Regions from separate parts of the Homo sapiens genome. Here region 1 is linked to region 2. The links come from fine-mapping of genetic effects on gene expression. Tissue or cell type: whole blood. Region 2 holds a variant in brackets; the other region holds the start of a gene. All regions are shown on one strand. Distances are between the middles of the regions.

Region 1 (8,184 bases), 74 kb before region 2:
GTTATTGTGTGAGTGGGCTTTGGAACCAAGGATGAGTTTGGCCCTGATTTTCTGTTTATCACATGTCCTTTACCGTAGGATGGCCTCCTGCCATGTTGCAACATAGAAAGAAGATCTCACCAGATGCAGCCCCTTGGACTTTCCAGCCTTCAGAATAATGAGCAAAATAAGTCACCTTACAAATTACCCAGTCAGTGGTATTGTGTTGTCGCAGCAGCAAATGGACTAAAACACTCTATTATTTCTTCCTCTTTAGATAATTAAATAAACTAGCTTACAAAGGGCCATGTCAAATTTCCCATCAAATGATAAAAAAGCACATATTTTTTTTTAAATGCGGTACAGTAGCCTGCCACTAAAACAAAGCCCCATTTTACTCCTAACTGTATTTTTAGAAATAAAGGAAAAGCAACCATAAAGGTCAACATGTAATTTTATTGTTCAGTAAGATTATTGCAGGAATTTTTAATGTTCTTGTCAACATAAATTTCAGTCTCTGTTGTCATGCATAATCTGGTACTCTTTTGGTGGAAGATCAGTTGTAACTAGGGTGATATTTTTCCAGTAAAGATGGTTGAAGAGCTGGCCTGTAACGAAAGGCAACTGATGTATCAGCTGTCGCAGTCATTTACAACCACAGGTTGCCTGCTGGTAGCAGGTTAGAATGAGGAGCCTCATTGGCTAATACCTCAGGATATCTGGTGGGAAAAAGTAGGTGGTTTCACTATCAGCCCCAAAGGAGGGAGATATGATGTAGTATTGAGAAGCTGTGGTTGTAACAAAATTCACAACGTGGCCATTTGCTTACATGTCGGTGCTATGAGAGTGCATATGAATATTTGTCAATTGATTTAAAATAGCATGTTGATTTGTTGTAATTTGTTCTGATTGTCCAACTGAGGTTGAAATGGAAGAGGAGGGAAACCACTTCTAATTGGGTCAGGTGAACCAGCAATGCCCTGGCTGACAGAAGATTTCCTTGTTAGAGTCATATTTAAATTTGTAGATGTTGAAAATGAACTTTCTTCACTAGTTTCAGCAGCTAAGACAGAATTATGTTTATCTGTGTTAGCCCCTGCTCTAAAGTGTTTCTTGAAATATTCAGTGAAGTAGATACAAGAGAAGTGTTTTTAATCTTAATTCTTCTTTTCGTTCTTATTAAAAGTTGGGGACAGCCACGTTTGAAATTCGGATGATAATACAACTTTAACTAAAACCAAGGAGAAGGTAATTCAGTGCCATTTTAAACCAAGAGGCAAGTAACAATAACAAACATAACCCATACAATCTCAGATTTCTGTTTTATCACACAAAGTTAATATCATCAAATAATGAATGAACATTGTTTACTATTTTTAAGAACATGCTTGTTGAGAAAAAAAAACACTCAAGTTTTGAAGCCCTCTGGTGAAAACATGTTATACATTTAATAGTAACATTTCACTAAGTGGCTTTGGTATCTTTATTTGGAGTTCACTGGTAAGACTGAATGTTGTTAGCAACATTTCTTAAAACCTGAAAGTTTAATGCTCAACCTGCACTCAATAATTTCAAAAAAATTAAGTAATTTTTACCTTAATATTTGATATAATTTTTAAAATCTGATCTTACTGCATGTATTAACATAGTTACTGATATATAAAATGAAATTACATATATACTCAAAGTGGTAACTGAAATATTTTGAATACCTTGCTTAAAACAGAAATTTCTTTTTCTTCTGCCAGAAAGTTGGCTAGAAAAGCAGATCTGTGAAAATTCTGTTGAATTTTACTAAATCCATAAAGGTTGAGCTGTCAAATTAAGATTTTCATACTGTCAGTTTGAAATATTCTGTAAGGAGCCTTTATTTCCAAATTTTCTTTCTTGAAGAGTTCTTCATTAGTCACTATGCAAGTTTCATTCTTATCCTATGAATTAGACTTGAATTGGTCACTTTCAGCTATTTTCCAAAGTTTACTGGGAAAGGTCAGAGAAGGAAAATCATTATCTTTATCTGGCTCAGAGACATAAAGTATAATGTGGCCTTTTTATCAAGGATCCTTGTGGCAAAACCTGAAAATCATTGATTCAGTCATTGACCTTAAGTCTGAATCCCCAGGGATTATGTGTTCACACAATGGAGACCCAGAGGAGGCTTTTGAACCAGTTGATTCATCTTTAGGAGAAACATCTTGAGTTTCTGCAGAAACATGTGCCATCTCAAATAAGTAATTCTTTAGCGACTTTTCCAGCCTGCATGTGTTTCAAGACTGCAGCTTCAAATGCTGCTTCAGTAGTCTACTCAGGTAAAGTAATTGAGATCACCACAGTGGTTTCCAACCTGAGTAGCAATGGCATCACAAGAGGACTTTGGTCACCTAGCAACAAACATAAAAATTTGGCCAAGACTGTTTACTTTCCAGTCTCAGAAATGTATCTGGTAAAAATAAAATATAGAATGATTACTTACACAGTTTATTCTGCAAAAGTTTCATGCCTGCAGAATCTTTTAAATTAATAAGGAGGGCCAGGCATGGTGGCTCATGCCTGCAATCCCAGCGCTTTGGGAGGCCGGGACAGGCGGATCATGAGGTCATGAGTTCGAGACCAGCCTGACCACCATGGTGACACCCTGTCTCTACTAAAAATACAAAAATTAGCCAGGTGTGGTCCATGTGCCTGTAGTCCCAGGTCTCGGGAGGCTGAGGCAGAAGAATCGTTTGAACCCAGGAGGCGGAAGCTGCAGTGAGCTGAGATTGTGCCACTGCACTCCAGCCTGGGCAACAGAGCAAGACTCTGTCTTAAGAAAATAATAAATAAATAAATAAATAAATAAATAAATAAATTAATTAATATCCTCAATCCCTGAAATAAACATAATTTTCTCCTTGACACACACAGTCTTACTAGATTGGTGCGAGGAGCATAGGGCCTGGTAATTGGACGGTGCAAAAAAATAAAAATAAATATTTTAAAAACTCTCTCAGCTTGGCATGTTGGATTGAAAACTGATGCAGTGTAAAACATATATGGTAAAAAGACATGGCCATATAGACAAAAGGTAGGTTAATGGTTGTCAGGGGCTGGGGAATAGAAAGAACTGTTAAGTAGATAATGGGGTTTCCTGTTTGATGATAGAAATGTTTTAATAATATAATTTTGAATAATGTAATTTTGTATTATGTGAAACATACCTTAAAAAATTAAAATAAAATCAAATATGAATAAAACTGATTAGATTTCAGAATAAAAAGTTATTCATGTATGTATCTATTCAAAACATTTTTTATTCATATCATAGAATAAATAATACTTTCATTTGGTATGTCTGTAAATATCTGACATGTTAATTATGTAAGATTTTAAAAGCAAGTGACCTACTTATAAGGAGATCCCAAAGAGTGGGAGATTTAAAAATGTAATAATAACAAGAAAGTGTTTTAAGTAAAGTAAATTTGTATGTATGTCTAAGCAGAAAATTTTATTATTTGGTTCCAAGAGCCAAATATCTATTTAAAAAATATTTCTTAAGGAATAATCTCTGTGTCCTGCAACGTAAAGTTATCATTATAAAACAGGAGTCAAATTTGTGAATTAATCTTAGAATTGAATAAAATATTTCTTCTCTTTGAAAAATAATCATGCCCCATTTACAGTAAGAATTTTTATATGTTCATGCTTGAGAGGTGGTATATTAAAATTCTAATGCCTTGGCTTTAAGTGTTGAATATGTGTGGAATAAAAAAATAATGATTTTGATATTTCTTATACTGTAGGAGGCAGTTCTCTCATACTGGAAAGAGGTGTCATTGTTAGAAGCTTGTCTTGGTTTAACATAGTTTAAGTTTTGGGGGTGTATTTTGTTTAGTTCAAAATTTTCCATATTAGCAGTAAGTAACAAAAATGTCCAGATCAGAAAACTCTTTGTGAAAATAAAACAGGTGCTCCTACCAGATGTGGTTCATCAATTTTGACAGAATTTTCATTTAAAAAAGGCAAAATTAAAATTTGTTTAATTGTTTGCTTTCTGGGGAATTTTCTTGTTGCTCTGTCTGAAGGAAGTACAGACTTCTTTTGTGATGGGAGGGGATGAATGGCTACTAGACAGCAGCAAAAGATGGGCCATGGGTGCGAAGAGAAGAGGGAGTTAATGGGAGAATCAGAAAAATATCACCTTAAATGTAGGACAATCGAAGTCAAATTGTGGCTGAGCGTTTTGGGGAACTAAGATGTGTGACTCTGTAGGGAGGAAGAATGCCTTGGTGTTTTCAAGGGAAGATGACTCAGCTAGTGCAGTCACCTGACTCCAAACTGCAAGCCTACTTTAGTCATAAAAAGGCAAGAAAATAAGCAATTTTACCTGCAAAGCAAAGGACGTAGTGTTGAAAACGAGACCAGAAATGGTGCTGTTAAAGAGGTGAACAAAAGCATTTACTTTTTGAACGAGTTTCAAAACTGTGAGGGTGGCAAATAGGCAAGGTAAGTAGGAGCAGCCCTCGACCATCTCAGATCAGCTTCTTCAGCCTACCTTGACCTCTGCCTGTCTCAGCTGGGGATCTTAACATAAATCTCTGGATATCAGGGGTGGCTTTTCCCGAGTCTTGAGCCTAGAAACTCCCTCTCTTGATTCTGATTTTCAGAGAAGAGAAGCAGCTGCTTAGCATTTGGGTGGGACAGTGGTTGTTACTAATATATTACAAATTTCAGCATGTTTTTAAACATCAGAAGGAGAAAGTGCTTCGTATTTAAGTGAAATCTCAAAGGGGCAGAAATCTACCATATTTTTTGTTATTCAGATGCAGTGATGCACTGGCTATGTGAGTACAAGAAACAAGTTCACTTAATCACAAACACATGCCTAAATTCCATTGTTCAGTGACTTCACTTTCACTTTCTACCTTGAATTTTAGACTCTGGAAGACCCATTTCTAAACTCTGTGGCCCTTTTCATATGTGCATATTTTCATAAGTGTTTTCCAGAAATAAATTATAGAGGTCCTTCTGTGAGTCCAAAGGAGAAGGAAGTGGTTGGGGCAGCCAGAAAGGTGCAATCTGCATTAATATCATATTCGATGTATGGATTGCTGGGGAGAGAGTGGGATATATTTCTTATAATGTTGGATGTATTTTTCCCCTATCCTGAGGCCCAGAAACTCTGATGTCTCTGCAGTTGTCTTTCCATGCTTTCCTTTATACCCCTCGCCTACTTCTGTAATTTCTCTCTCTACTCTCCCTCCTCCTTCCCACCCTTTTTCTTTCCATTTGTGCTCTCTCCCTCCATTCCTTCTTTTTCCCTTTTCTTTCTTTTTGTGGGTATCTGGTAGCTGCAACTTATTTTCTTTCTGCTTTTCTTACTCACTTACTCTATTTACTAGGTATTTAACAATTGTCTTTAAAAGTAACATCCTTTCTTTCTTAAAATTTTATCCCTAATGGACATTATTTGGGGAAAAACATTTTTATGGTGCCTCTAGATAAGTAATTATATCATCTGCACATGATTCCCGTATTTTCTTACATGCCCGTTCCTCGTAGGTGGAAATGGGTACTTCATTGTACTCTTCTCTCTTTATTTACAAGAGTGTTTTTTCTGTCTCATCCCTTTAAATAACACATTGTCTCTCTTTTTGTGACATTGAATTAATTAGGTCAGATGCGATTTTTCTCATCTATTCATTTGAAGACTGTTTCATATTGCTTCTAGGGCCTATTTGCAAGCAACAAATTATTTTGTTGTTGTTGTTGTTTTGTTTTGTTTTTTAATTTTTGGACCATTTGTCTCATCACTCCAACAAGCAAGAATTAGTTCTCATCATTAAGATCCCTTCAAGATTTCATTCACTTGTTTCAGCAGCCTTGAATTATCATCACCTGGACCTGTTGTTACATCAAGAATCTCTCATTTCTAATGTTCTACTTTGGACACTGTTACCTGTGAGTTTGTTTACATTAAAAAAAAAAAACCTTTTAGTACTTGAGTACCCTAAAGTTTCATATTTTGAATTGGTGTCAGATTTATTATTATTGATCTCTCCATTGCTGGAGAAAACTAAGCAATAGGTAAACTCTATTCTTTTGGTAATTTGTATTTTCTGAATGTTTCACAGTAAATGTTTACTAGTCTTGTGATGCTGCAAATTGGCAATCAGATATATTTTAAAGTGACAAGGTTGCCCTGTTCATCACCAGTTCTGTACATCACGCAGATCAAAAGTAAGGTGTTTAAGTTTATTTTAAATGTTTTTCCCAAAAATTCTGCTTCCACCACTTTTCCAAGCTCTACCAGATGGATACTCAAGAATTGACCAAGGCAATCTCTTCTCTCATATTTCACTGTCAAATACTCTTAATCAGTGAGTCCTGTCAATTCTGTGTTTCTAAGAAATGATGATGGTGGTCATGATTATAATGATGTCAATAGGAACACCTTTCCAAACTTCACTGTGTACCACGAACTCTTCTTCCTGCTGCCGATGTATTATTTTCTCTACACTGCTATCTCCCCAGGAAGATTCTAATGATGTTATCATTGTACAGATGTGGAAACTGTAGCTTATGAGGTTTTAATTTTGCAATTCAAGGAAATGACAGGATTCTGGCAGTGTGGTAGCTCATGCTTGTAATCCCAACACTGGAAGGCTGAGGCAGGTGGATCACTTTAGCTCATGAGTTTGAGACCAGGAAGATGGTCAAACCCCATCTCCTCAAAAAACACAAAAATTAGTGTACATGGTGGCATGCACCTGTGGTCCCAGCTACTTGGGAGGCTAAGGCAGGAGGATCATTTGAGTCCTGGAGGTTGAGGCTTCAGTGAGTCTAGGTCACGCCACTGCACTCCAACCTGGGTGACAAGGGCAGATCATGTCTTAAAAAATAAACAAATAAATACCCACCACAACCAAAAGCAAAGGAAGCAAGCATAATAAGCTAGTTAATATGCTTGTTAGCAATGTGGACATTTATTTTATAGTTAAAAGAAAAAAATAGAAGTGACAGTATTGTAACTCAGAAAGTCTGGTTCCAGAGTTTGTACTGCTAACCAGAACAACTTGAGCATCAGTTGATATTTTCCATTTTTTTTGCTCTACTTTGTCTGATATTAATATAGCCATTCCAGCAGTCTTATCACTAGGGTTAGTAGTGCACAGCTTTATTCCATCTCTTCCGTAGTAATTGTGTCTTTATGTCAAGTATGGGTTTCCAGGAGACAACATATAACTGGATTTTACTATTTTTATTTCTCTTATAGGCTTTACCTTTTAGTTGTGGTATATAAGCCATTTACAGTTAATGTGCTGATTGATGTAGCTTTCTGTTTTCTCCATGTGTTACTTGTTCCATTTTCTCTTATCTGTCTTCTTTTCTATTATTTATTTATTTTTTTAATTTCCTATTATGGCCTTTGTTGGTTTCTTAGCTGTTACTGTTACTTTAGTTCTTGCTTTGAGGTTTGTAGTGTACATCTCAAATTTACCACAACCTACCTTGAAGAGGTATTACACTTCTCTATGGACAATGTTAAAACACTAAAATAACATGTACCATTATCCCCTCTCAGCCTCTGTGCTACATGCATTTTTAAAATTATATAACCACAATATTTTATTATTTCAACAGTCAATTGCATTTTTCAAAGATTTGATTAAAGAAAAAAGTCTAAAATTAACATACAAAATTGCCATTTTCAGTTTTTGTCATTTTATAAGATCTATTATATCTTTGTGGCACCTATCACAGCCATTTGATAAATTAATTTGTAGATACAGTAAGAATGTCATGTATTTATTAAAGTTTTTAATAGTGATTTTAAAATTTCTTATTAGGTGGCAAAAAATAATAAAAATAAATGCCCAGAACGAGTATGTTATAAAACTAAACTGTAACTCCATGTAACAGCTATAGCATAGTTTGTTTGAACTGAAATTCACATAAAATAATCATATTGAAGTCCAAAAAATTTAAAGATGTAGTGTAAATTCAATTTATATGAAATTGAAGCACGAGGTTTCCTAGATACCTGCTGCCTACAGAGTTAGAATCTAATTCTTCTGATTATTCTTGTAACAAAATCTTTTGAAATTCTAAATTCTGATGCAGAACGTATCAGTGAAACTCCCTCCCACTGTCTCTTGTATTAGCATCAAGGAAGCGAGAAAAAATAAGGTAAAAAAAAATTCTGCTGTGTTTATTTTTTTACCTTCG
Region 2 (8,184 bases):
CCTCTGGCCACAAAAGTCATTGCCCATTTACCCCCAACTGCTATAGAAATATTATTTTCAGTGGTTGTTATGATGCTAAAGAAGCAGGGAGATTTATTAAACCTTTACATATAAGTTATGTTAGTAAATAAAGTCTACTTTCTTCTGGCTTAACTAAAAATCTATACTAGTATTTATGCATTTTGGAAAATAAAGATGCCAATTTAAATATTATGAAGCAAAGCAACTGAGTATTAGGTAAGACAGCCAAGTACAACTGCAGAATTATAGAGGTTATGTGTTACATGTATAAGAATATTTCATAGCAATAATCTTTTGAGACTATGTGAAGACACTCCACAGTGAAGCAGAAATTAGAACAGAATTAATAATACTGTGTATGCTCTCAGTTCACCAATTTATCAAAACTAACTTTATAATTCAGGAGGCTGTCTGCTCTTTTGCAATTGGAAGAAAAGAAATAATATTTTATTTTTCAACTCTTTAGATTTTCTTCATTAAGAGTATTTCCAAAGCTAAGTAAGGGAGTTGCAAGTAGCACCAAGAGAAAAAAGCAGTCTTGAGCAGCTTTTAAAAAATGGTCTTAAAATATGGAAAATGGAGCCAGGTGTGGTGGCTCACTCCTGTGATCCCAGCACTTTGGGAGCTTGAGGTGGGAGGATTGCTTGAGCTCAAAAGTTTGAGACCAGCCTGGGCAGCATAGCAAGATCCCCATCATTACAAAAAATAATAATTTTTTTTTAAATTAGCTGGATGAGGTGGTGCATGCCTTAGAGTCCCAGTTACTTGGGAGGCTGAGGTAGGAGGAGTTCTTGAGCCCAGGAGTTCAAGTCTGCAGTGAGCTACAATTGCATCAGTCCTCAAGCCTGGGCAACAAAGTGAGACCCTGTCTCTCTCTACAAATAAATAAATAAATAGTGGTCTTCACTGATAAACTGACTAATGAAACAGAATAGAGAATTCCCAAACAAATCTCCACAAATTTAATCTTTGATATGTGATGTAGGTGACATGGCAGATCAACAAGGAAAGAAAGGACATTTCAATAAATAGAATAGAAAAATAATGGTTATTGATATAGGAAACAAAATGAAATTATATTCCTGCTTCACTCTATATACAAACATTAAATTCCAGAGGACCAAAGACTTACATGTCAGAAACAAAACTTTAAAACTTTTAGTAGAAAATGTAAGTGAATGAGACACAAAAAGCCATTTAACCATTAAAAAAGATTAGACATTTTGACTATCACAAAATTAAGAACTTTTTACATCAAAAAGTGGAAAGATAGGCTGGGCACAGTGTCTCAAGCCTGTAATCCCAATAGTACATCACCTGAGGTCAGGAGTTTGAGACCAGGCTGGCCAACATGGTGAAACCCCATCTCTACTAAAAATACAAGAAATTAGCTTGACATTAGTGGCAGACACTTGTAATCCCAGCTACTTGGGAAGCTGAGGCACGAGAATCATCTGAACCCAGGAGGTGGAGGTTGCAGTGAGCCACGGCACTCCAGCCTGAATAACAGAGCTAGACTCTGTCTCAAAAAAAAAAAAAATAGAAATTAAAAAATAAAAGTAACAAAGTGAAAAGATAAACTGTAAATTAGAAGATATTTGCAGTACCTAAAACCTATGAAAGATTACAACCAGATCAACTAAGTATAAGGAGCTCCTATGAATTAATTTTAAAAATAGCAACCCAACAGAAAATTGGGAAAAGACATCAATAGGGATTTCACAAAAGAGAAAGCCCGCAAAATGTAAAAAAATTTCTCAACCTCATTAGTAATCAGGAAAATGCACAAGATACTACACATCTATTCTCCCCACAATTATTAAGAAGTTTGACAATACCAAATGTATTAGTCCACATTCATACTGCTGATAAAGACATACCTGAGACAGGGAAGAAAAAGAGGCTTAATTGGATTTAGGTTTTCACATGGTTGAGGAGGCCTCAGAGTTATGGCTGTCAGTGAACAGCACTTCTTACATGGCAGTGGCAAGAGAATATGAGAAGGAGGCAAAAGAAGCAAAAGACGAAACCCCTAATAATCCCATCAGATCTTGTGAGATTTATCCACTATCACAAGAATAGCATTGGAAAGACCAGCCCCAAAGATTCAACTACCTCCCCCTGGTTCCCTCCCCGAACAAGTGGGAATTCTGAGCAATACAATTCAAGTTGAGATGTGGGTAGGGACATAGTCAAACCATATTTTTCCACTCCTGGCCCCTCCAAATCTCATGTCCTCTCCAAACCTCATGTCCTCACATTTCAAAACCTATTATGCCTTCCCAACAGTCCCCCAAAGTCTTAACTCATTTCAGCATTAACCCAAATGTCCACTGTCCAAAGTCTCATCTGAGACAAGGCAAGTCTCTTCTGCCTATGACCCTGTAAAATCCAAATCAAGCTAGTTACTTCCTAGATACAGTGGGGGTACAGGTAATTGAGTAAATGCAGCTGTTCCAAATGGGAGAAATTGGCCAAAACAAAGGGGTTACAGGCCCCATGCAAGTCTGAAATCCAGCAAGGTAGTCAAATTTTAAAGCTCCAAAATGATCTCCGTTGACTCCATGTTTCACATCAAGATCATGCTGATGCAAGAGGTGGGCTCCCACCACCTTGGGTAGTTCTGCCTCTGTGGCTTTGCAGGGTATAGCCCACCTCCTGGCTGTTTTCATGGGCTGATGTTGAGTGACTGCAGCTTTTCCAGGCTCACAGTGCAAGCCATCAGTGAATCTACCATTCTGGGGCCTGGAGGAGAGTGGCCCTCTCCTCACAGCTCCACTAGGAAGTGCCCCAGTAGGGACTCTGTGCAGGGGCTCCAACCCCACATTTCCCTTCTGCACAGCCCTAGCAGAGGTTCTCCATCAGAGCCCCACCCCTGCAGCAAACTTCTGCTTGGACATCCAGGTATTTTCATACATCCTCTGAAATCTAGGTGGGGGTTTCCAAACCTCAATTCCTGACTTCTATGCATGTGCAGGCTCAACACCACGTGGAAGCTGCTAAGGTTTGGTGCTTGCACTCTCAAGGCCATGGCCTGAGTTCTATATTGGCCCCTTTCAGCCATGGCTGGAGGGGCTGAAACACAGAGAACCAAGGCCCTAGGCTACACACAGCACAGTCAACCTGGGCCCAGCCCAGAAAGCCATTTTTTCCTCCTAGGCCTCTGGGCGTGTGATGGGAGGGGCTGCTGTGATGACCTGTGACATGTCCTGTAGAAATTTTCCCCATTGTTTTGGGGATTAACATTCAGCTTCTCGTTACTTACGCAAATTTCTGCAGACTGCTTGAATTTATCCTCAGAAAATGGGATTTTCTTTTCTATCACATTGTCAGGCTGCAAATTTTCCAAACTTGTATGCTCTGCTTCCTTTACAAAACTGAAGGCATTTAGCATCACCCAAGTCACCTCTTGAATGCTTTACTGCTTAGAATTTTCTTCCAGCAGATAACCTAAATCATCTCTCTCAAGTTCAAAGTTCCACAAATCTCTAGGGCAGGGGCAAAATGCTGCCATTCTCTTTGCTAAAACATAATGAGAGCCACCTTTGCCCCAGTTCCCAACAAGTTCCTCATCTCCATCTGAGACCACCTCAGCCTGGACCTTATTGTTCAAAACACTATCAGCATTTTTGTCAAAGCCATTCAACAAGTCTCTAGGAAGTTCCAAAATTTCCCACCTTTTCCAGTGTTTTTCTGAGCCCTCCAAACTGTTCCAACTTCTGCCTGTTACCAAGTTTCAAAGTCACTTCTACATTTTTGGGTATCTTTTCAGCAGCACCCCACACCACTGGTAT[C/T]CATTTACTGTATTAGTCCATTTTCACACTGCTGATAAAGACATACCCAAGTCTGAGAAGAAAAAGAGATGTAAAGAAAAAGAACTGCAACTGGATTTGCAGTCCCACATGGTGGGGGAGGCCTCAGAGTCATGGCAGGAGGTGAAAGGCACTTCTTAAATGGCAGCAGCAAGAGAAAATGAGGAGGAAGCCAAAGCAGAAACCCCTGATAAACCCATCAGATCTCATGAGACTTATTCACTGTCACGAGAATAGCACAGGAAAGACTGGCCTCCATCATTCAATTACCTCACCCTGGGTCCCTCCCACAACATGTGGGTATTCTGGGAGATAGAATTCAAGCTGGGATTTGGGTGTGGACACAGCCAAACCATATCACCAAATAGGGAGAGACTGTGGATCAACAAGATCATCTCAAACTAATACAGGACGTGAGTGTTTAAATGAGAACAACCACTTTAGAAAACAATTTGGATTATCTTATAAAGTTGAGCATTCTCATATGTTACGGCAAAGTAATTTCTCTACTATAGGCCCTGGAGAAACTCTTGCCCATATGTACCAGAAGTATTAAAAAAAATGCTCATGTAATGCCATTCATAATAGCAAATATATGGAAACAAGCCAGATGTTCATTGATAGGAGAATGGGTAAATTAATAGGAGAATGGGTAAATAAATTATACCCTTAAAAAACTAAATAATATGCCATTTAGGGCAATCATATATATGCAATAAAACAATGTTTTTTTAAAGGCAGGGAATCCTAAACATAAATTCAGGGTAGTAGTTACCCTGGGGCTGAAGGGTGTAAATCAGGAAAAAGGACAGAGGAGGAGCAGATGTTAGGTCAGAACCCTAGTTCTTGGGTTGTGTTGTGGGTTCACAAGTGATTACCACATTATTCAAATACATTTACATAGAGGCCCAGGCACAGACAAGGGTGAAACAGGAGCCAAGGTATGCTATGAGCCAAGGAATATGATTAATCAAATTTTGTGCACTTTAAACCATTTGAAAAACAGAAAAGCAAAACAAGAAGATAAATTTTAACAAATTGAATATAGAGTGCTATGTTCTGAATGTGTCCCCCTAAAATTAATCACAGTGTTATAGGATTAGGAAGTAGGGCCCTTAGGTAGTGATTCAGTCATGAAGGGAGAATCTTCACGAATGGGTTTAGGGTCCTTACACAAGGACTGGAGGGAGTGGGCTTCCCCTGTTTTGCCCTTCTGCCTTCTGCCATGTGAGGGCACAGTGCATCTCCTCCTGAGGACAGAGTGCACAAGGTACCATCTTGGATGCAGAGGTCAGGCCCTGACCAGACACCAATCCTGCTGGCACCTGGATCTTGGACTTCCAGCCTATGGAACTGTGAGAAATACATTTCTCTTCTTCAGAAATTACCCAGCCTAGTGTATTTTCTTATATAGTAGCACAAACTCATTAAGGCATAATGCTTCTTGTCATTTTCTTCTACAATTTTCTTTGTTGCCTCTTTAGCAGTGGGTCATTTTATATTTGATCCTTCATAATATCTCTTACTTTTGGTTTTTCACATTTCTGTTCCAAGTGTATTCTTAGATACATATTTTTCACTGTTTGTTATTATCCAGGTCAGAAAGTCCAGGATACATTTTTTTAAGGGTTTGGTTTCTGCAACAATGAAGTATTAATGCCTTCTGTAAACTAGGTATTTCCTTTCCAATTGTAACTGCCATCTGGAAGCAAAGTGGAATTACAGGCTATGAGTGTGGGGTTGATATTTAGTGTATCTAGAGTATGGTTAAATGCTGGTTTTTAATCACACGGATACATCGATTGCTTGGCACACTAGGGTATCAGTTGCTAGTTATCTCTGTATTTATCCATGCTGTTACAGAGGGAAAGTACAGACCGTGAGGTTGGACCAGCTGTCATACCCATATTTGGGGAGCTTTGATTTTTTTAACCTTCAGCTGCTTTACTGTCACACGTAGCAGCTCAGGTGAAAAGCACTTTTATTGTGGGGACTTTCCCTTAGTGCTCTGTGGGGCACAAGAGCAGACCTATGTAGAAGCATTAAGTATTTTGTGCATCAACAGGACAATTAAAGGAACAAATTCTTATTGTATCTTTTAGTCCCTGAAGACAAAACCACAGTGACAGTAACTAGGTCAAGGCATTGTATTCAGAGAGGGTCAGCCTTGGTCTTTGAGAGTGAGTCCCCTTTACCCCACTGTCAAGACTCACTGAGCAGACGGGAACGTTCAGGTGGAACATGCAGTGAATAGCAAACACGGTGGGGGGCGCTCACTGTCATGCACTGCCATGCCTGCCATGGTCAGCAGACCTCTTCTACTTGACAACAGGCAGGTTGAGAAACATTTTCTTGGAGAGTTTCTTGATTCTTGCCAGTTGTGGCAGGATGGATTGACTTAGAGGAGCTCAGGAAGGTTGTTAAACAACACAGAAACACAAGATGAATTGTACTCCTCAGCAGGCCTAGGTTAGAGCAGCAGGTGCTTGAAGCCTCAGCCACTCGTGGGACACAACATAATGCCCCTAATGATTTGAAATTTGGTGGAGAGTGGGTCACTAATCCCTGTGTCCAGGGACAAAAAGAGACATCAACAGCAAAAAGTTATAAAATAAGTGGGACTAACATCTGCTTCTTGTGGGAGGTAGGAATTTAAGATATAAGAATTTAGCTGCAGGAGCGAGCTCACACCTGTAATCTCAGCACTTGGGGAGGCCAGCGCAGGAGGACAGTTTGAGCCCAGGTGTTTGACATGAGCCAGGCAACGTAGTAAGTCCCCATTCGTACAAAAATGTTTTTGGAGAAAAGTAGTTGAGTGTGGGGGCACATGCCTGTAGTCCCAGGTACGTGGGAGGCTGAGGCAAGAAAATTGCTTCAGCCTGGGAGATTGAGGCTGCAGTGAGCTCTGATCACCACAATGCACGCCAGCCTGTGAGTCCGGAGACCCGAGCTGGCGCCTTGAAGCGGGGTCCCCTGCACCGGTAGAAGTCGGCTCAAGGAGGTTCTGAGAACAGGACTCCCGGGGGTCCGGCCCTGGAGGACCCGAAGCCCCCAGTCCCATAAACGCCCCCTACTACATCCCCACTCCAGCCGCCACTGCGACTGCCACAGAACCCCCGCCACGTGTCGCCGAACCTGTTTAAAGGGGCCACAGCCGGAGTTTGAAGAGCAAAGCAGGAGTCGGCCTGGGCAATGCGCATGCGGGAGGCACGAGCCCATTCTCCCGTGACGGTGACTCCAACGGTTGGCTGAGGACGATTCCCTGAGCCTTGACAAAGCAGGAGCCCTCCGTGGCAGTGCGTCGGGGTCGAGGCTCCAGCCTGACCAATCCAGGGGGTCGACAAAACAGATTCGGGACACCATGCTACACGCAGGGCCTACCAGGATGCAGAAACAGCAGACGGAGTCCGGGGAAAGCAGTGCGGCATCCCAGCCTCAGGCCTGCCCGTACGGTGTTCGGGTGAGTTCCCCCAAAGCCGTGCCCCCCGTGATCTCGAGGACAGGTCTGCCTGTGTGCCCAAGGACTACTGTCTCACCCGAGGGTCATTCTCCCAAAGAGCAGAAACCCGCAGCCTCAGTGATTGCCTGGGGGTTGTGTCTCTCTGCCACTGCTGTATGTCTGGGTGCCTGTGTCTCCCATTCTCTCTTCTCTCTGTCACTCACTCTCTGTTTCTCTGGCTTTCTCTGTCTCTGTGCGTGTGTGCCCGTGAGCGTGTGTGTTTCTGTGCCCAGTGCGCTACAAAGCGGTCTCTTGCATGTCAGCGTGTCTTTAGTGGGCCTCTGTCTGCGACTCTGCCTGGGTCATGTGGGCGGTTGTCAATCATTTCCACGGCGGTTCCACTTTGGCTTTCTGAAGACCTCGACAATGTGAGAAGCTTCGGTCTCAAAGAAACCGAAATTTCATCCCGATCCTGAGCTACCTCTTTTGTAGAATCAAGATGACCACACTCCAACCAAAAAAAAAAAAAAAGGTACAAGGAGCTCATTGTTTTCCAGGAGGGGAGGAGACCAATGTGAAAGGAGATGGTTATATCTCCTCGCGGCTCTTCTCTGAGAAATGAAGCCAGGATACGAAACAATCTTCAAGAAGAAGCTGAAAACCGGATATGACAAGGATGTCCCCAGAACACAGCAGGCATCCTGAAGCTCTGCCTCCTGAAGCTCCCCCTCCCTCGGTGGAAGTCGGCTCAGGGAGGTCCTGAGGACAGGACTCCTGGGGGTTTGGCTGCAGAATGAATTAATTCACTAGGACTTTATATAATTTTTCAAATCATGAAATTGCACAATCTTTTGAATATGGAATTGGGAGGCCTTTCAGTTCATTCAGTAGAAAACTGGAACATTTTTGAAG

The links. PIP is the estimated chance that this variant, and not a neighbour inherited with it, causes the effect.
Region 1: XKR3 starts here. The variant in region 2 is fine-mapped to the expression of XKR3 in whole blood (INTERVAL, PIP above 0.99).

Annotation. Positions count from the first base shown.
Region 1 is chr22:16,821,568-16,829,751 of GRCh38, reverse strand. It overlaps XKR3 (XK related 3), which reads left to right and starts at 4,341. Exons shown (of 4, transcript NM_001386955.1): 1 at 4,341-4,461. It also overlaps the pseudogene HSFY1P1.
Region 2 is chr22:16,747,385-16,755,568 of GRCh38, reverse strand. It overlaps LINC01665 (long intergenic non-protein coding RNA 1665), which reads left to right and starts at 7,131. Exons shown (of 2, transcript NR_134584.1): 1 at 7,131-7,293; 2 at 7,830-8,184. RefSeq lists a silencer at 4,064-4,264. The variant C/T (reference allele first, on the strand shown) is at 3,816.